4 linked regions of the Homo sapiens genome follow. The protein of the gene in region 1 purifies or fractionates together with the protein of each later gene. This does not show direct contact. Each region holds a gene or a part of one and is shown in the gene's direction. Other genes may lie near its edges.

Evidence for each region. The genes of interacting proteins can lie anywhere in the genome.
Region 2: the proteins of CSGALNACT2 (region 1) and CHSY1 purify together in Homo sapiens (co-immunoprecipitation; 3 studies listed by BioGRID and IntAct, with this or other methods). This does not show direct contact.
Region 3: the proteins of CSGALNACT2 (region 1) and P2RX4 purify together in Homo sapiens (co-immunoprecipitation; 3 studies listed by BioGRID and IntAct, with this or other methods). This does not show direct contact.
Region 4: the proteins of CSGALNACT2 (region 1) and TPST2 purify together in Homo sapiens (co-immunoprecipitation; 3 studies listed by BioGRID and IntAct, with this or other methods). This does not show direct contact.

Annotation. Positions count from the first base shown.
Region 1 is NC_000010.11:43,158,338-43,163,289, forward strand, and holds part of CSGALNACT2 (chondroitin sulfate N-acetylgalactosaminyltransferase 2), read left to right. Parts: intron 1-377; coding exon 378-594; intron 595-986; coding exon of another isoform or gene 987-1,011; exon of another isoform or gene 1,012-1,027; intron 1,028-2,156; coding exon 2,157-2,258; intron 2,259-3,862; exon of another isoform or gene 3,863-4,023; intron 4,024-4,952. UniProt on the Homo sapiens protein: Transfers 1,4-N-acetylgalactosamine (GalNAc) from UDP-GalNAc to the non-reducing end of glucuronic acid (GlcUA). Required for addition of the first GalNAc to the core tetrasaccharide linker and for elongation of chondroitin chains.
Region 2 is NC_000015.10:101,244,608-101,249,559, reverse strand, and holds part of CHSY1 (chondroitin sulfate synthase 1), read left to right. Parts: intron 1-4,952. UniProt on the Homo sapiens protein: Has both beta-1,3-glucuronic acid and beta-1,4-N-acetylgalactosamine transferase activity. Transfers glucuronic acid (GlcUA) from UDP-GlcUA and N-acetylgalactosamine (GalNAc) from UDP-GalNAc to the non-reducing end of the elongating chondroitin polymer.
Region 3 is NC_000012.12:121,219,618-121,224,569, forward strand, and holds part of P2RX4 (P2X purinoceptor 4), read left to right. Parts: intron 1-2,295; coding exon 2,296-2,367; intron 2,368-2,476; coding exon 2,477-2,549; intron 2,550-3,112; exon of another isoform or gene 3,113-3,150; intron 3,151-3,329; coding exon 3,330-3,426; intron 3,427-4,952. UniProt on the Homo sapiens protein: ATP-gated nonselective transmembrane cation channel permeable to potassium, sodium and calcium. CTP, but not GTP or UTP, functions as a weak affinity agonist for P2RX4.
Region 4 is NC_000022.11:26,582,692-26,587,643, reverse strand, and holds part of TPST2 (protein-tyrosine sulfotransferase 2), read left to right. Parts: intron 1-4,952. UniProt on the Homo sapiens protein: Catalyzes the O-sulfation of tyrosine residues within acidic motifs of polypeptides, using 3'-phosphoadenylyl sulfate (PAPS) as cosubstrate.

The DNA of each region.
Region 1 (4,952 bases):
GTTGACCTAAACCAATAGAAATTTTGGCTCTTGGGTCTAGATTTTAATATTGCTAGAAGTAATTTCTTTATTTATCATGATTACCATATTGATAGGCTCTAGTATTTTTAAAAAGTCGTATGTAAAAAGGAACAATTGTCATTTGTAGTATATTTTATAGATTGAATAAAATAACAGAACAGTGAACTTTTTTTTTAACCTTTTCTTTTAAGCGAGTAATTGTTACTGTGCAGTGGGGATAAGTATTTTCACAAATAGGTAAAAATCCTGCAGGTCTAGTTTAATACCCTTTATGTTTAAGTGAGTAAAATCTGTCTTCCCATTGAATTTGTAAACTTTGACATGGAGACGTCTTTGTTCCTAACTCTTTCCTTTAGGTTATTATCGCACTGAGAGAGATAAGGGCACACAGTATGAACTCTTTTTTAAGAAAGCAGACCTTACGGAATATAGACATGTGACCCTCTTCCGCCCTTTTGGACCTCTCATGAAAGTGAAGAGTGAGATGATTGACATCACTAGATCAATTATTAATATCATTGTGCCACTTGCTGAAAGAACTGAAGCATTTGTACAATTTATGCAGAACTTCAGGTAACTGTCAGGGCTTAATGATTAAGCTACATTCTCCTAAAAAAAATCACGTTTTACTCAGATTTCCTTAATTTATCTTCACCGATTATAATTACTTAGAATAATTTTACAGGCTTTAGGGGAACTTTATTTTTTTATATTCTCTCTTTTTTTAAAGCATGTGTAGTATATTGTGTTATAGACAATTTGAACTATGAAATAAATTAAGAGTGACACCTATTAGAAACTAAATTTGATGGCCTTGATAATTGTTTTGAATTCATTTTAAGACAAGTTGAATTTTTAAAAAATCAACTTTACTAAGGAATAATTTACATGCAGTAAAATCCACATATTTTAAGGATATAGGTATCATGACTCTTTTTTTATTTTTATTTTTTTTTTTGAGACAGGGTCTCACTCTATCACCCAGGCTAGAATGCAGTGGAGTGAGCACAGTTCACTGCAGCCTCAACCTCCTGGGCTCAAGTGATCCTCCTGCCTCAACCTCCCAAGTAGCTGGGACCACAGGTGCATGCCATCTTTTTTATTCTTTGTAGAGAGAAGGTCTTGCCATGTTGTCCAGGCTGGAATTTAATGTCTTTTGACAAACGTATACACTCACGAACCACCACCCCAATTAAGATACAGAATACTTGTGTCTCACAAGAAAATCCCCTTGAGAATGATTTGAGTTTTTTAATTGAAATACATTTAGACATACAAACATTAAACTAAAAATTGGAGAAAGTTATTTCAGCTTGCAAAGCAGAGAATTTGTAAAGTTTTTTTATGTTATCAAATTTGTATATTTTAAAATGCTGAAGTGTTAAATAATTATCTACACATTATGAAAACTATTTGTGGAAAATGCTTTTTGATTTAACAGTTTCCATGTTTCTAATACTTTAATATTTTTAATGTTTTAGATACTTTGATATACTGGTTTAATGCTTTGTGATCCTAGTCTTTATTCTCATATTGAAATTGTTGGATTTAAAAGGTTAATTAAAACTGGTCTGCAGCTGAATGTCTGGCAGTCATACTTCCAAGTGAGATTTACTGTTCCAAATAGCTCACTTGAGATCCGATTTCCTAAAGCATTTTTTTATTGCCTTTCTTGGAATTACTTTCAAAGGCCACATTATTATTTACAGTAAGTAATCTCAGTCATGGCAAATATTTATTCCTTAATGATAGTTACAATTTTTGGAATTAGCCAGTCTGAAGACAAAATAACTCTTAATCCAAAAGGTCAGTATTTATTTATGTGGTTCTGAACCAGTTGAGTTTATTTCCTTGAATAGCTTGTGATTTGCTTCTGAAAGCAATCCAAAAGCAAAAGTTCAAAAAATGTTTTGAAATAATGGCAGCAATGTCAGACTGCTTCCATGGCCCTCCAAGGGGTGCACTCATTCAGGCATAGACCTTGTGCCTTCCATAATTCATCAGTATTGCCACATTTATGTTTACTACTGTGTCAGTAATGCCTCATTTTCTTGTTAAAGCTTCATGTGGTTGCTTTCTTAATGAATAGTGCCTCATGTTTTCTTGAATAAACTTTTATTTTTCACTTCTGTTAGGGATGTTTGTATTCATCAAGACAAGAAGATTCATCTCACAGTGGTGTATTTTGGTAAAGAAGGACTGTCTAAAGTCAAGTCTATCCTAGAATCTGTCACCAGGTTGGTGAACCACATCTGCAGTGAAGGCCTTGATATATAACATTGCTAAAAGAGAATTTCAGATATGTAATGAGTTAATAATTTTTAGTAACTATTATTTAAAAATTGGCTGAGCATGTGGGCGGTGGTGGTGATGATAAGTTCCTCATTTCACATGCAACCCTACATGACTCAACTTCCCTTCACTGCTTAGCAAGCAGCCTGGCATGATGCTTTCTCTGTGGCCCACTCACCTTCTGTGTATTTGCTGCTGCTTTCCTTTTTTTAAAATCTAATTCCTTCACTTTGACATAATCATCTTCTGAATTTGTCTCTTTTTTGTCACCTTTCTTTCCTTCCATTTCCTCAGGCTCCTTCTTCTCCCCCTGCTAACAATGTTGAGGTCTCCCATATCCTTAAGAAACTCCCACTCAACTCTGAAGTGCCCAGCCACTACTGTTATGTTTCTGTCCTTTCACAGCTCAACATCACGAGACAGTAGTTCATAGCTAAGCAAGTCATATAGTACCTGGCACATAGTAGATGCTCAGAGGTTTGAATGGATGAATTAGTAATCCCTTAGTACTTAATTATTAATTCTTTAGCCTCTCAGCCTTTTTCTTTCTAAATCATGGGCCCAAAGATAACGACTTAACTGCCAAATTCTTTTCTGTTATTCTTTTTCATTGCTTTTTTACCTTTGACAACCTAACCAGTATTTCTGTCTTAAAATGTTCTTCTTGTGTTTGTAAAATGTAACTATTTTGTAAATGTAAGTATGATGTAATGTAAACTATTAGGTTGATTATCATCTCTAACCACACCAGCTCTATATCCTTTACTTGCTTCTTTACCTTTCTGCCAGTTGTGGCCATTTGCCAAGAGCCCAGATTTGATCAGCCATTCTTCTCAAATCATTCAACTCACATTCATTGAGTCCTGCCTACTGTGTTCCAGGTACACTGCTTGGGAGTTTGACTGGGGTAGTTGGAAGAAGAGTGGGCGTAGATGAGTGAATCTGAGTCCCTGACCTGCAGGGATTCTCAGAGCCTTGATGTATATAGACACAATTCACTGTCTTCCCCTTCCCTACACCAGCTCCTCCTCCTGATGGCCCTCTTTCAGTTCAGAGTAAAACCATTTTCACCATCTGGGCATGACTTCTGAGAGCCACAGTCTTTTACTTATTCTTTGCCTCCAGTTACCTCTAATTAGTTAGTTCCTACTTAATTCACAGGACCTCTTCTCTATCTCTTCCTTGCTACTGCCACCACCCTAACCCTGGTTCCCCCTCCCTCCATTTCTTCCCTTCCTGTCCCTCCTTAGTGTTTTTAGATCACCTACTAAGTGCCACAAGCTCACACTGGTAATACTGAAGTATTGTCAAGACACTTCTGTGGCAAATGGTGTAAACCTACCTTGAGCTTGCTTGAGGAAAATAGGAGCAGTATTGAAGAATCTCGGATACCTCCCAGAAATAAAGGGATTGTTACAACCAAATTTGGGGAAGAAAATCAAAACAACTCTTGTTTCTCAGGGATTGGAACCAGAGACTTGAATACCATCAAAATTCTCGTCTCCTTGTCTGTTTTTCTCTGCATGTTGACTTCATTCTCCTGTTGCAGATTGGCTTCTTCCACATGGTGAGGGATATGACTGTTGGCGGCTCTGGGCTCACATCTTCTCAGCTTTGCCATCAGAGAGGAAAGAGCTTTCTCCCAGCTCCAGTTGAGAAAATCCCAGGGAAGGACATTTTGCCCACTCTTGAGCCAATCACTATGGCCAGGTTGGGTGGGGGTATTGGGACTGGCCCAGCTTAAGCCTGGTCTCCACCCCTAGGAAATTACTGTGGTTGGGGTGGGCAGAGAGTGAGGGGTATTCTGTGATCAGTGCCTCCACTTGATGCTGAGTATGTGGGGTGGCAATGGGCAGTTTTCCCCCAACAGAGGAGAGATTTATATTCCTTAAGACGGGGAGAAGAGTCCTAGGCATTCAGAGCACTTGGAGTCCACTCCATGCACTATTTGAGCCTTTGTTCCATCTCTCCATTACCCATTCTGTACTGTTGTAAGTGTAATCCTCCTAAAATGTTACTTTTTTGATTAGGCTGCACCCTAGTGCAGTGAGTGATTCTCCAGCTTCAGTGCCAGAGTCACCAGGAGGACTTGTGAAAATGTAGAGGCTTCTCTCCAGCCCTAGCATCTGATTCAGTGGGTCTGGCTGTAGTCTGAGAGTTTGCTTCTCTAACATGTTAACACAGGAAGCTGATGCTGTGGGTTTGGGGGCCTCACTGTGAGAACCACTGCCCTAGCAGAAAAGTCCTGCTGATTCTCTTTGCCTTTAGGATACTGACCAATTTCTTTAACCTTGCATGGGAGGTACTCTTCACTCTGACCCTTCTCTCATTGTTCCCATTTTAAGATTCCGTTGACCCTTATCTCACTGTTCCCATTTTAGGGTCCTTTTCTACCAATCTGATTTGTCTGATCCCTTTTCTCTAAAATGCTTTCTACATTCTTACCTCTTTGCCTTTGAGAATAATTATTTTGAATGACCTTTACACTCACCACTGAATTCAACATTTTAACCAAGGCATAACTCACGTTCCACTTCTAACATCTTCTCTAACTACTCCAGACATGAGCGATGTATTTTTCAGAACTGCTGTTCATTCATTCATTCAGCAAATATTTATTGAACTCCTACTCTATCAGG
Region 2 (4,952 bases), on another chromosome or scaffold:
CCTGGGCTACAGAGTGAGACTCCATCTCAAAAAAAAAAAAAAAAAAAAATTCTATCTATCGATCGATAGATAGAGATACATAGACTAGTGCAGTGATTTGGGAACCAGCCTATCAGGATCTCTCCCAGATCTACCTTGCATTACCTGAGGTTTTATGGGATTTTTTTTTTTTTTTTGACCAGAGAAACAGCCGTATCGGAAATCGAGGATGAGCCATATAGATTATTTACAGCATGGTTTTGAAAGTAAATCCGCATGACTCTAGTGTGGTGATAGACCATGTGAAATCACAGTTTTGGGGACAGTTAACAAACCAGTTAGTACAAACAGTAAATTAGGTAACTCCCTTATCTCCCCCATGCCCCCTGAACCAAATACATTTTCATGGTTACGGTATCAATATATTCAAATCAGTGGGGGGCCTAATGCACCAGCAATACTCAGAAAATGTAATGCAGGCCGGGCGCGGTGGCTCACGCCTGTCATCCCAGCACTTTGGGAGGCCGAGGCGGGCGGATCATGAGGTCAGGAGATCAAGACCATCCTGGCTAACACGGTGAAACCCCATCTCTACTGAAAATGCAAAAAAAAAAAAAAAAAAAAAAATTAGCCAGGCTTGGTGGCAGGTGCCTGTAGTCCCAGCTACTCGGGAGGCTGAGGCAGGAGAATGGCGTAAACCCAGGAGGCAGAGGTTGCTGTGACCCGAGATTGCGTCACTGCGCTCCATCCTGGGGGGCAGAGCAAGACTCCGTCTCAAAAAAAAGAAAATAAGTAAAAGAAAATGTAATGCAAACTAGAACTACTGTTTCACACTTGGAGATGGTTTTCCAAACTCGAGCTTAACGCTCTTACTTTTGGCCTCCTTTCCACATCTCTTCCCTCATCTTTTTCTGGATGTAAGACTTAATCTCATTGTTTATTTATTATTTTTTTTTCAGGTGGTTAGGGGAAAGCAGAAACACAGTTTGCCCCCAGGCGGGGTTCTCCCTTTCTTTTGACACCTCTGCCTTTCTGAGAAAGGAAAACGCCTACCAGGAGATAGTGTCCAGCTAATGTCACTCCAGCTCTCTCACAGAAGTTTCCTTTTATCTCTCAGATCTTAAGAAGTCAGAGTGCATGGAGCCTGGAGGTGGACCTGCCCTGCCAGTTAGGGTCCTTTGCCTCTTGCCTGCCAACCCTGTGTTTAGACTGACTGCAGGAGTTGGCACAAGACGATTTTAGCCTTAAGGCTAAAAGTTAAGGAACTTTTGGGGAGGGCCTCAATTGGGATGGAGGTTATAGGGTATAACATATGATTCCAGTTTTACTGTGCTTTGCAGCCCAGACCAAAAGTCCACACTGAGCTCTTAAATTGGAAATTCCATGCACAGTTCAGTATAAAAGTAAGCTTGACTCTTCTAGCACAAGGTAGAACTCTAGTTTGGAAATCGATGTGCTGAGCTTTACATTTCTCCTGAAAGGTAAATTCATTCTTCATCTTATCGAAAACTGTAGTTTTGTTTTTTAAAAAAAACAAAAAAACAACTGTTGTTTGGCTTATAGATGAAGGAGATGCCAGCACTTTCAGTAAGATGATACTTTGGTGTAGAATACTGAAAATGTCAGAATTTAGGTGAAGGGACTAGTAGCTAGCAACCTCTTCATTCCAACAACTCTGAGATCCAGAAAGGGGCTAAAAAAGCTTTTGAAAATCCAAGGAGATATGCCCGTCCACACTAAAGGCACAGCACTTTGATGATAGAACATCTCCATCATTACACATTTTTACTTTCTAGACCTGCCATCTGCTTGAGGGATGGATGGGGGCCACCAAGATATAGCAGGGCAGTGACAGCTGATAGCAGACAAGAAACAGATTTTTCAAAGCAGGCGAGACAAAACTCAAAATGTAGCAGGTGAGAGACCAGCCAGGGCTGAGCTTTGGAGGCCCTGAGTGACACAGTAGCTGTGGAGTTAATAGGAGTGATCCTGATTCGTTACTTAGGATCCATTTCTTTGTAAAGCACATGCATGCATGGCCCCTCTGGCCCCCGACCCTGAGTCCTGGGGGACACTGCAGTACACGGCTTGCTGTCATGTTCTTTAGTCAGAGGGACGACACTAAAAAGAGGGTTTCTGCTAGTGATGGATGCTGTAGAGAAAATAGAACAGGGTTGGGGCAGGGCAAGTGTGTCCTCTCTGTGTTAGGTGATTAGGGAAGAGTTTGGAGAGAGTGCCATTTGGGCTGAGATTTGATCATGAAGAGCCAGTTGTGTGAATATCATTGATGAGCATGAGGGCCAAGGAAGCACCGGGAAGTCCCAAGGCAGGGACCGGCTTGGAAAGGAACACCAAGAAGGCCAGTAAAAGAAAGAAAGCCAAGAAGGCCAGTAAAAGAAGAGCCCCAAGAAGGGGCTCGCTAGTGTCCAGTCTTGTAAAGTTTCATTCTGAGTGAATTAGAAAGCCACTGGAGGGTTTATGCAGGAAAAGGAGGTGGGTAGCTGGGGTTCTGTAAGTTAACACATAAAATAATTTATTTTGACTCATCTGCAAGTGTGTGTTCTAGGTAATTTCGCTTTAAAATGGTACTGTGATTCCTCTGAAGTCATTTATTATGCAAATTAAGGACAGCTTGTCAGAACCTCTGGGTTTCTTGTGTCTTGCATTACTAGCTGCAATTCGTATTTTTCCCATATTTAAACATTTTCTTTTTAGTTATGTTCTGTGATATATGGAAGGGAAATGTTCATGTAGTTCAGTCTATGTCTTTCCCTTTCTGATTTTAGTTTTCTCTACCCCAGGTTCACAGTTACTGCCCTGGAGAGATTTTTAAAGGTAACGTTTCCTTCCTAATTCTAGAAAGGGTAGAAATCATCTCAACTTTATTTTTTCCCCAAATAGTATGTGGTCGCAGCACCATGTACCGTTGACTAAGTTCTCATTTCCCTACCAGTTTGAAATGCCATCTTCGTCATGCTCAGAATTCTTGGGTATGTTTCTGGACTTCATGTTTTGTTCCGTTGAACTTTCTGTCTGTTCTTGTGCCAGTACCACCCATTGAAATTATTGGAGGTTGAATAATATTTTAATATCCGGTGGACAAGTTCCCCTTTGTTATTCATCTGCTTCAAACATTTCTTGGCTACACTTACCTTTTCTTGCTGAGAGAGTTTCTGTGCTATTTAGATTTTTTTAATCAACGTTTTGATTAAAAAAAAAAAAAAGCCACACGTATTTTGCTTATTCGTCCATTTTTATGCCCAGAACCTTGAGCTAATCCAACACCTTTTGTTTGTTTTGGTTCTTACCCTCTCTGGGCTGAAGATGGGGAATAGTTTTGTTCTTTTTTTATGTTGTCAGAAGAAAGAGGTGGATGGTTTCCCTTCTTTGCGCCAAGATTGAACAAGGGCACCATTACAGATTAGCATCAGTCTGTAGGGGACTGTGGGAAGAAAGTTTGAGAAGCATTACCTAGAGATATAGGAATCTGATTTCAGGATACTATTATCAGTGAATGATCTCTTCCTAATGCCTTAAATGAAGACGGACTGTTCCTCTACCAACCTTAATGAGATCCTCCTATCTTATAAATCTGAATTCATTTCCTTATTTCTTGAGCTAAGTAAACCATGTTTATCTTGAAACAGTTCAGAGCAGTCCTCACTTTCTTAGATAGAATTCAACTTGGCAAACATTTATACAGAAGGCTTTTCCATGTAAAATCCAAATAATCAACCTGTAAGTGAACTTTTGGAGCACCAAGTCATTTCAGATCGTGAATTTCCTGTAGGAGACTAGGGAACCATGTGGCTCTGAAAATGAGTGTAGTTTTTTATGTCAGGTTCAAGATCTTGAAGCGCTCAAACAATATTCCAGGGATTTCCAGGGATGGCTGTGGCTGTCAATAGCGGATTGATTCCAGGGATAGATGTGGCTGTCAATAGCGGATTGTGCGTGACTGTTTCCATTGCACCGGCAGCTTCACGTTCCCCTGTCTGTTAACTAAGCTGCTCTTTATTAACAGTAGATTCCAAATACAGGGCCCTAGTCTCTGCAGAGTTCATTGTCTCAGAAGGAAACGAGCGATGGTATTGGTTGATGAGGGCTGTCAGGGTGCGTGAACTAATCACTGTGGGGGAGCAGAAGAAAGAGGCTTACACCCAGTGGGTGATGGATCAAGAAATGTCTCACCCACACTCCCACCCTTTTTTTACCCACTAGCTGAGTCTTGGAAGATGAAGAGGTGTTTTTGAGGCAGAGACAACTACAGGTTTCCTACAACATGAAATGGCAGGAGTTAGTGAAGGAGCGATGGGAAAGGCCAGCTCTTTGGGGCTAGGTGTAGGCTGTGGGTGGTAGAGTGGTGGGCAGGGACATGGAGGGAAGGTCTGCGTGCCAGGCTTTGTGTGGTTGCTGTCCAGAGCTATTGGTGACATTTCGGCAGGACAGTAGCCTGATGGGATGTGTGTTTTGGAAGATCAGCCCAGCGGTGTTGCTGCTGCAGAGGGTGGCTAGAGTTGGTCAAGTACCGGTACCTAGCTAGAGCTGGACAGGACCGGTACCTGTTGAGGGACGCTTGGGTAGCATTTATCAAGAAGTCTAAAATGCAGCTCTCTTGAGGTCTGGCAATTGCTCTAGAATTTTTTCCAAAGGAATTTTAAAGGTGTGCTTAAATGTGTACATATGAAGTGGAAATTTCAGGTATTTTAGGTGTCCTGCTTTAGGAGATAAGGACCAAAATTGACTTAACTGATTCATCCATACTGTGGTCTGCATCTCTAACAAGTAAAAATGGTGTGGCTGAAATACTTTTATTGACATGAGGAGAGGTTCAGAATATACTTAAGTGAAAGTAAACTGTAAAACAGTATGGCCAGTACAAAGCCCTTCTGTGTTTAAAGTAAAACAAAAGTGTATGTTTGTGTAGCATAGAAAAGGAAACATCAAAGGATGTACTCACTGTGATGCCAAGT
Region 3 (4,952 bases), on another chromosome or scaffold:
TAGATAGATAGATAGATAGATAGATAGATAGATAGATAGATGGAAAGAAAGAAAGAATAGATAAATGATAGGATAGGAGAAAGAAAGGGAAAGAAAGAAAAGAGAAGAGAAAAGAAAGAAAAGGGATAGGATAGATGACAGATGATAGGATAGATTAGATAGGTGATAGATAATCGATAAATAGAAAACAGATGATAGATATAGGATAGATTAGATAGATAGATAGATAGATAGATAGATAGATAGACAGATAATAGATAGATTAGATTAGATGGATGGACACCAGCCCCCAATGAGAGGAGGATCCAACTAGAATCTTTTGGGGTCTTTGCCTTTTATTCCTTATATGAGGAGGTCATTATCAGCAATTCTTCAGTCTCATCCCTAGCAAATTGCTTTCCAGAAACTCTAAATCAATTATTTGGCACCTTTATACATATAAGGAGGAAACAGAACCTTTTCAAAGAGAAATGTCACTTGCTGACCCTGACCGAGTCTTCTCTAGAATGTTTGATTTATAATTTCAGTTAGGAAAGAAAACCAGCCAGATTTGAGCCCCATGAGGCCTCATGTTTTTATTCCTCTGAGATAATCTGGTTGGCAGGGAATGTTTTTAGCACTTGTTGGCTCTTTCCCTCAGTAAGTCAAGTTTGATTGAGAAACCATTGTTTCAGTTTGCAGACCCCCCCCTTTTTTTAACTGCAGTCAAATTCACTTATAGAAACTAACCATTTTAAGTCGGGCACAGTGGCTCATGCTTGTAATCCCAGCACTTTGGGAGGCTGAGGCAGGTAGATCACTTGAGGCCAGGAGTTGGAGACCAGCCTAGCCAACATGGTGAAATCCTATCTCTACTAAAGATACAAAAATTAGCCAGGTGTGGTGATGTACACCTGTAGTCCCAGCTACTCAGGAGGGTGAGGCTGGAGAATCGCTTGAACCCAGGAGGCGGAGATTGCAGTAAGCCAAGATCGTGCCACTGCCCTGCAGCCTGGGCGACAGAGCAAGGCTCTGTCTCAAATAAATAAATAAATAAGAAAGAAATTAACCATTTTAAAATGAAAAATTCAGCACATTTAGTGCATTCACAGTGTTATGCAAGCATCACCTCTATCTAGTTCAAAACATTTCCATCACCCCAAAGGGAAGCCTCGTATGTTACACAACCACTCCCCATTCCCCACTTCTCTCACTCCCTGGCAACCCGTAAGTGCTTTGTCTCTATGGACTTGACTGTTCTGGAAATTTCACATCAATGTAATGGTATCCTGTGTGGCCTTTGTGTCTGGCTTCTTTCACTCAGCATCATGTTTTTGGGGTTCATCCATGTTGTAGCCTGTATCAGTGCTTTATTCCTTTATTTTATTTTTTGAGATGAAATCTCACTCTGTCACCCAGGCTGGAGTGCACTGGCGTGATCTCGGCTCACTGCAACCTCCACCTCCCAGGTTCCAGTGATTCTCCTGGCTCAGCCCCCTGAGTAGCTGGGATTACAGGTGCCCGCCACCACACCCGGCTCCTTTTGTGTGTGCGTGTGTCTGTGTGTGTTTGTGTGTGTGTGTGTGTGTGTGTGTGTGTGTTTTTAGTACAAAGTTTCACCATGTTGGCCAGGCTAATCTGGAATTCTTGACCTCAGGTGATCCTCCTGCCTCAGCCTCCCAAAGTGCTGGAATTACAGGTGTGAGCCACCATGCCTGGACCCTTCATTCCTTTTTATTCATGGCTGAATCACATTCCATCATGTGACTAGACTAGGACAGACATTTGGGCTGTTTCCACCATTTTTTTTTTTTTTTTGAGACAGAGTCTCGTGTCATCCAGGCTGGAGTGCAGTGGCGCGATGTCGGCTCGCTGCAACCTCCGACTCCCGGGTTCAAGCAATTCTCCTGCCTCAGCCTCCCAAGTAGCTGGGACTACAGGTGCCCGCCATCACACCCGGCTAATTTTTGTATTTTTAGTAGAGACGGGGGTTTCACTGTGTTGACCAGGCTGGTCTTGAACTCCTGACCTCGTGATCCGCCCGCCTCAGCCTCCCAAAGTGCTGGGATTACAGGCTTGAGCCACCGCGCCCGACCTGTTTCCACCTTTTGGCTCTTGTGAAAAGTGTTGCTCTGAATATTTATGTACAAGGACTTGTTTGAGTCACTGTTTTCCATTGGGTTATAAACTTTGATGGGAGAGAGCGGGAGAGCACGCGGTCAGTGTTTGAGTTGTCCTCTTCAGTCAGCGTCTGCCTTTCTTGGCTCTCCGTGAGTCCTCTGAGCGTGGCTTGCCCGTGCTGTCTCCCCTCTGCAGGAGGAAAACTCCCTCTTCGTCATGACCAACGTGATCCTCACCATGAACCAGACACAGGGCCTGTGCCCCGAGGTAGGAGGCCCCCGGGAAGAGCCCCAGGCCCCACACCCCTCTCCACGCCTGTCCACCTGTGTGTGGGGCCGGGCCACGTGGACTTTCTTTTCGCTCCTTCTTTTTCCAGATTCCAGATGCGACCACTGTGTGTAAATCAGATGCCAGCTGTACTGCCGGCTCTGCCGGCACCCACAGCAACGGTACGAGCTTGTGGCCTCCTGGGGAGGGCGGCCCCTGAGCAGATCGCCCCCACTGTGGAGCGTCTCTGATAGAGAAATCTTCCCAATTCCTTCACATGACCCTGGGTGAGCCAGGTGCCGAGGCTGGGGTCCTGGAGCCCCTCTACATTCACTGCTGTCATTGGAGCCCCACAAGCCATCCCAGCTCTTGCCCTACTGTTTTTTTTTTTGTTGTTGTTGTTGTTTTTTCTTGTTTTTTTTTTTGTTTTGTTTTTTTGTTTTTTTGAGCCAGAGTCTCGCTCTGTCACCCAAACTGGAGTGCAATGGCATGATCTCGGCTCACTGCAACCTCCACCTCCCAGTTTCAAACAATTCTCCTGCCTCAGCCTCCCGAGTAGCTGGGATTACAGGCATGCACCACCACGCCCAGCTAATTTTTGTACTTTTGGTAGAGATGGGTTTTACCATGTTGGCCAGGCTGGTCTCGAACTCCTGACCTCAGGTGATCCACCCGCCTCAGCCTCCCAAAGTGCTAGGATTACAGGCATGACCCACTGTGCCTGGCCTCTTGTCCCATTCTTTAGCTTGGCATCACCCTGGCTGAGATGTGGCTGGCACACAGGTAACTGTCTTCCTCCGATTCTAACTCCTGGACAGTGACACTGTCTAAATCCCAGATTTGCACAGCTCAAGACTGGCTGCATGGGAGGCTGGATGGGGCTCTCACTCCCTACTCCAAAAAGGTAGAAAATAGGAGACCCCTGTGGACATGGGACCCCCCTGCCACCCTTGTGCTTGTAGGAGTCTCAACAGGCAGGTGCGTAGCTTTCAACGGGTCTGTCAAGACGTGTGAGGTGGCGGCCTGGTGCCCGGTGGAGGATGACACACACGTGCCACAGTGAGTCCAGCCCTAGGGAAGGAAGTGCCTTTTTGTTTTGTTTTGTTTTAGACACAGTTTCACTCTGTATCCCAGGTTGGAGTGCAGTGGTGCGATCTTGGCTCACCACAACCTCCACCTCCCGTGTTCAAGTGATTTTCTGTGCCTCAGCCTCCCGAGTAGCTGAGATTATAGGCACCCACCACCACGCCCAACTAATTTTTTGTATTTTTAGTAGAGACGGGGTTTTGCCATGTTGGCCACGCTGGTCTCCAACTCCTGACCTCAAGTGATCCACCTGCCTTGGCCTCCCAAAGTGCTAGGATTACAGGCGGGAGCCACCACACCCAGCCAGAAGCCACCACACCCAGCCGGAAGCACCTTCAACTCTGCGTGTCAGCCTTGAACAGAGGTGGTCAAGGAGTTACACCTGTGTGTTGTGGCTTTTTGTGTGTTTCTGGTGTCTGTATGAAGTCAGGCTGCCCTAGGATGGCTGCTCTCAACCACAAGGCAGCGACCATCAGTGGCAAGATGGGCCACAAGTAGTCTGTCACTCACGAGAAGGGTGCAGGTGACTGACTTCCTTGTATGTTAGGACTCTGTCAGTTGCAAATAACTGACAGGAAACAGTTCTCAGTGCCTTAAGCACATGTGCACAAACACATACACACATACACATGCGTGCACAGCGGGGGGGCAGTGTATTGTCCGGCTGACCAAAAAGATCCAGCGTGGCCAGGAGAATCTCGTGCCAGGCTGAGGCAGAAGAATCTCTTGAACCTGGGAGGAGGAGGTTGCTGAGCTGAGATGGTGCCACTGCACTCCCTCCTGGGCGACAGAGGCCACTGCACTCCTGCCTGGGCGACAGAGTGAGAGACAAAGGACAACACCCTAGTCTCCCTTCCTGGCTCTGCATCCCGCCGTGCCAGCTTCACTCGCAGGACCCACAGCATAGCCCGGGAGGCAGCGCTGCACTTACAGCCCCCCAAGTCTGAGTCTCCCTTTCCAGCTGTCCCTGGAGATTCTAGACCTGTCCATCATCGTATCAATGGCCATATCTCTCAACCCATCTCTGTGGCTGGGGAATGGGTTTTGCTTATCAGCTTGGGCCTGGGTCACATGCCCACCTCTGCAGCTGGGGCTAGAGTCAGACCCACCCAAGTGACATAGGCAAGCATTGGGGAGATATGGCTTCCAAAGGACATTTGGGGTTCTGTTACCAGAAAAGCTGGGAGCAGATGCTGGGAAGAAAACAACGGATGTTTGCTACAGTGTATTTTAAACTAAACTAGACAGGTTCATCCTGGCGCGGTGGCTCATGCTGTAATCCTAACACTTTGGGAGGCTGAGGCAGTCGGATCATCTGAGGCCAGGAGTTCAAGACCAGCCTGGCCAACATGGAGAAACCCCGTCTCCACTAAAAATACAAAAATTAGGGTTAGGGTGGCGCTTGTCTGTAATCCCAGCTACTTGGGAGGCTGAGGTAGGAGAATTGCTTGAACCCGGGAAGTGGAGGTTGCAGTGAGCTGAGATCGCTCTTCTGCACT
Region 4 (4,952 bases), on another chromosome or scaffold:
TTCAGGCCGGGCACGGAGGCTCACACCTGTAATCCCAGCACTTTGGGAGCTAAGGTGGGCAGGTCACCTGAGGTCAGGAGTTCGAGACCAGCCTATCCAATATGGTGAAACCCCGTCTCTACTAAAAATACAAAAATTAGCCAGGTGTGGTGGTGCGTGCCTGTAACCCCAGCTACTTGGGAGGCTGAGGCAGGGGAATCGCTTGAACCCAGGAGGCAGAGGTTGCAGTAAGCCAAGATCAATCACACCACTGCACTCCGGTCTAAGTGACAGAGCAAGACTCTGTGAAAATACCGAAGCAAGGAGAGGCAGTGTAGGACCCAGTGGCTTACAGAGCCCACCCCAGGAGCTGGCACACAGTATTAGGAGGGGGTGAAAGGAAGGTGGAAGCTGCTCGGATCTTCCCATCCCGGGCCAGCCTGGAGCCCCCTTGCCAGCTGAGGCTTTGTGGAGGCCAGGGAGACCCTCCATGGCTCTCCTAGACCATAACTGAAGGGGAAGACTTGTCCCTTGACCCCAAAATTAAGTCTGGTCCTGCCCACACCCTATCTGGAACCCCCCACGCTACTCTGAAGGTGACTTCTCTGGGTGGCCACCGGAGTGTCCTATGTGAGTTGCTGCTTATTTCAAGAGGGGCCACCCCCCAGGCCTGAGATGAGCAGTCCTGAGTTACAGACGCTTCATCTGTGAACATTCTGCACACACAGACATCTTCCCCCTCCTCTCAGCACCTTCCCCACCCCTAGGACCCTGTGTTTCTTCCTTCACACTCTTTGCTTCAGCAAGAGGCTGCACCGGAAGAACTCAGGTCAGAACCCAGCGTTTTCACAGAGGAAGAGTTCCTTGAGAAGGTAGGTAGTTCACCCCAGCTTGAACCTGTACTCTGCTGGTTCAGGAACTTAGACCAGCACTTATCTGCGTGTTCCAGTTTCCTGACAACTTGGTTCATCTGGGCAGCTGCTGTTTGGGAATGGTGTTAAGACCACGCCTCCCAGCCGCTGTATCTGGCACCTCGTGACTTTATTCTTTTTTGCATACTTGCCTTTCCTTGTCCTTTTAAAATCCTGAGTTCCTGTGCATTAAGAAAGCAGCCTAGGCCGGGTGCATGGCTCATGCTTGTAATCCCAGCACTTTTGGAGGCTGAGGTGGATGGATTGGTTGAACCTAGGAGTTTGAGACCAGCCTGAATAACATAGTGAAACTCCATCTCTACAAAAAATACAAAAATTAGCCAGGCGTGGTGGTGCGCGCCTGTATTCCCAGATAGCCGGGAGGCTGAGGTGGAAGGATCGCTTGAGTAGAGGTTGCAGAGAGCTGAGATTGCACCACTGCACTCCAGCCTGGGCAACAGGGCGAGATTGTAGGGTATTAGGTCAGTACATAAAAATCAATTAAATATTAAAAAAAGAAAGAAAGAAAGCAGCCTAGGGACATGGAGACGGGGTGGGAAGGCTCCCTAGGCAAGGAACTGCCGCTCTCTGGGTGTCAGTGTACCCTACTGAGGAATGGGCATAGACCATTCAGAACTAAGATGTGGTGGTGCCTTGGGATCGGTTAGGCTGTTGAAATGTATTATTATGATTATTATTATTATTATTTTTGAGACGGAGTTTCGCTGTGTTGTCCAGGCTGGAGTGCAGTGGCGTGATCTCGGCTCACTCCAAGCTCTACCTCCCGGGTTCACGCCATTCTCCTGCCTCAGCCTCCCGAGTAGCTGGAACTACAGGCATATGCCTGACTAATTTTTTTGTATTTTTAGTGGAGACAGGGTTTCCCCGTGTTAGCCAGGATGGTCTCGATCTCCTGACCTTGTGATCCGCCCGCCTCGGCCTCTCAAAGTGCTAGGATTACAGGTGTGAGCCACCACGCCTGGCCTGAAATGTATTATTGATGTGACTTTGTGGGTGTATTTGTAGTAAGAGTGGCAGATCAGATGTAGCTTCACAGCCTGGGGTTGGTGACCAGAATGTACTTTCTTGGAAAAATGCATGTGGCTTGTGTGGCTTTGATGCCCCACGTGGCACCAGGGAAGCTTCTCTGGGTAGCAGCAGCTCCTGCTCCCCGACTTGCTGCCTATTCCGATTGCTTGCAAGTCCCCGTGCCCTCTGAGGACCTGCATGTACCCGGTCTGGGGCCCCTCCAGAGATCTGGGATGACTGTCCCCTCCCGTCACTTCTCAGGTCTCCCCCACCCTTTACTGCAGCCAGAGGAGGATTTGTGGGAATGATTCATTCAGAGCTGCTTGAGATCTTGGCCAGCCCCCAGAAATTGCAGGGAAGGACCTCAGAGGCAGTGCCCACAGGCCCTAGGGAACGTCTGGGGCTGATGGCCCAGGGAGAAACTTCTTATCCTATGTGCTCAGATGGCGGGCAGCCAGCCCGTCTGCCGAGTGACTTTGTATCAGTAAGACTTTTGACTGGGGCTTCTGCAGCCAGAAAGCAGGCAGGCAGCCCAGAAAGCAGGCAGTGTGATAGGGAGCTAGGGGGCACTGGCCTGTATTAGAATCCAGGTGCTCCACATCTTTCTGGGGCTGTTGGCTGTTTCTCTATGCTTTGGTTTTCTCATCTGTTGAATGCAGGTATAAGTAGGACCTATCTTCCAGGGGTGCTGGATGGAAGGGAATGGTGGTAAAGCACTTATCTTGGTACCAGGCAAAAGCTGAGGCCCTGGGGTTAAACAGGCTCTTTGGAATTTTGAACATGTTCGTTTGTGAACCTTAGTTCCTCCGTCTGTCAAAAGGCAACAATTATAAATACAGCCAATATCAACAGGGCTTACTGGGTGCCAGACACTGTTCTAGGCACTGTATGTGGTTTAACTCATTTAATTCCCCCAACAGCCATATGATGTGAACAGGCTGAGGCTCAGAGAGGTGAAGTAATTTGCACAAGGTCACCCAGCTAGGAAGTGGGAGACATAGGATTTGGATCCAGAATCTTTCTTTTTTTTTTGTTTTGGGTTTTTTTGTTTGTTTGTTTTGAGACAGGGTCTTGCTCTGTTGCCTAGGCTGGAGTGCTGTGGCACAATCATAGCTCACTATAACCTTGAACTTCTGGGCTCAAGCGATCATCCCACCTTGGCCTCTCAAGTGCTGGGGTTACAGGCGTGAGCCACCACACCCAGCCCAGACTCTACACTCTGAATTCTCATTCTTACTCCTCCTTGATATCCCATCTTAAGGCCTAGCACATAGAAAACACACAGAAAACATCAGGTGTTGTTATAACTATTCTGAATAAATATTGATCCGCTCTCCATCCCTCTGTCCACACTCCTTCCCTGATGATCAGAACATGCAGGGCTCTTGGCCTGTAAAGTCCAGATTCCCACCCACTCCTCCCTACTCGCTCTGTTCCTCCCACTCCCACACTCTCATGCACAGCAGAGCTTGGAAGCAGCCAAGTCCCAACTCTTCCTCCAAATTGCTGTGTGACATTGGGCAAGGAGCTTCCCCTCTCTGAGCCCCAGTTTCCGTACATGTTAAATGGGTGAGTTCACCCTGCTGCATGTTTTTTGTTGAGCTCCCATGCTACGTGTGTGTTTTTAAAATTGAGTCAACATTCAAACATTTCTAGAGAAAAATTCTGATTTCTCATTTCTCTTGGAAACCCAGGAGCTTAGGCCAAACTGGAGTGGCCTGAAGCTGCCCCTTAGGTGGCCTGGACTCTCCCAGTCACTGTGGTTCCCCCTACTCCCCATTGTCACGTAAGTGCGGCTTTTCAGGGGATCTGAGGATGCCTTAGGCCTGCCTCGTGCCACCTGAATAAGCAGTTCCATTGCTTTAAAAACAATTTTTTTTTTTTGAGACGAAGTCTCGCTCTTGTCGCCCAGGCTGGAGTGCAATGGCATGATCTTGGTTCCTTGCAACCTCCGTCTCCTGGGTTCAAGCTATTCTTCTGCCTCAGCCTCCCAAGTAGCTGGGATTACAGTCGCATGCCACCACGCCCAGCTAATTTTTGTATTTTTAGTAGAGACAGGGTTTCACCATATTGGCCAGGCTGGTCTCGAACTCCGCCTGCCTTGGCCTCCCAAAGTGCTGGGATTACAGGTGTGAGCCATCGCGCATGGCACAATTTTTTTTTTTTTTTGACACGCTCCAAGAGCCCTTCCAGCTCTGTGTTTCTAGGATATTGGAGGTTGTCTGAGGCCTCCTGATACCCTGTCTGCCATTTTAAGCCCTCAAGGCATTTTTTTTTTTTTTTTTTTTGAGATGGAGTTTCCTTCTGTCGCCCAGGCTGGAGTGCAGTGGTATGATCTTGGCTCACTGCAACCCCTGCCTCCTCGGTTCAAGTGATTCTCCTGCCTCAGCCTCCTGAGTAGCTGGGATTACAGGTGCCTACTACCATGCCCAGCTAATTTTTGTATTTTTTTGGTAGAGACGGGGTTTCACCCTGTTGGCCAGGCTGGTCTTGAACTCCTCACCTCAAGTGATCTGCCCGTGTCAGCCTCCCAAAGTACTGGGATTACAGGTGTGAGCCACTGTGCCTGGCCTTTTATTTGTTTTGTTCTTTTTTTTTTTTTTTTTCCTTTTTGAGATGGAGTCTCGCTCTGTTGCCCAAGCTAGAGTGCAGTGGTGTGATCTCGGCTCACTGCAACCTCTGCCTCCCAGGCTCAAGCGATCCTCCCACCTCAGCCTCCCAGAGTGCTGGGACTGGAGGTTGTCCCCATTGCATACTCCCTGTGTGGGGAGTTCCTGTCTCTGGGCGCTAGGGTGCCGTGCCACCTTACCTGGTACAGGCCCCTACCTAACTGTTGTTCCCCACAGTGAGATATTTGTTATTGACCACGCCATTTCCCAGAAGCCAAGGCTTGGAAATAGTCACTTTCCCGAGGTCACACAGGCCTGAGATTCAGCACCAGGACTCAAAGCCCATCTGCCCAACTTCAGAGGCTGTCAGTGGAAGTCATGCCTTGATCCCAGCACTGCACGGATAGCCACTGAGTGACGTCTT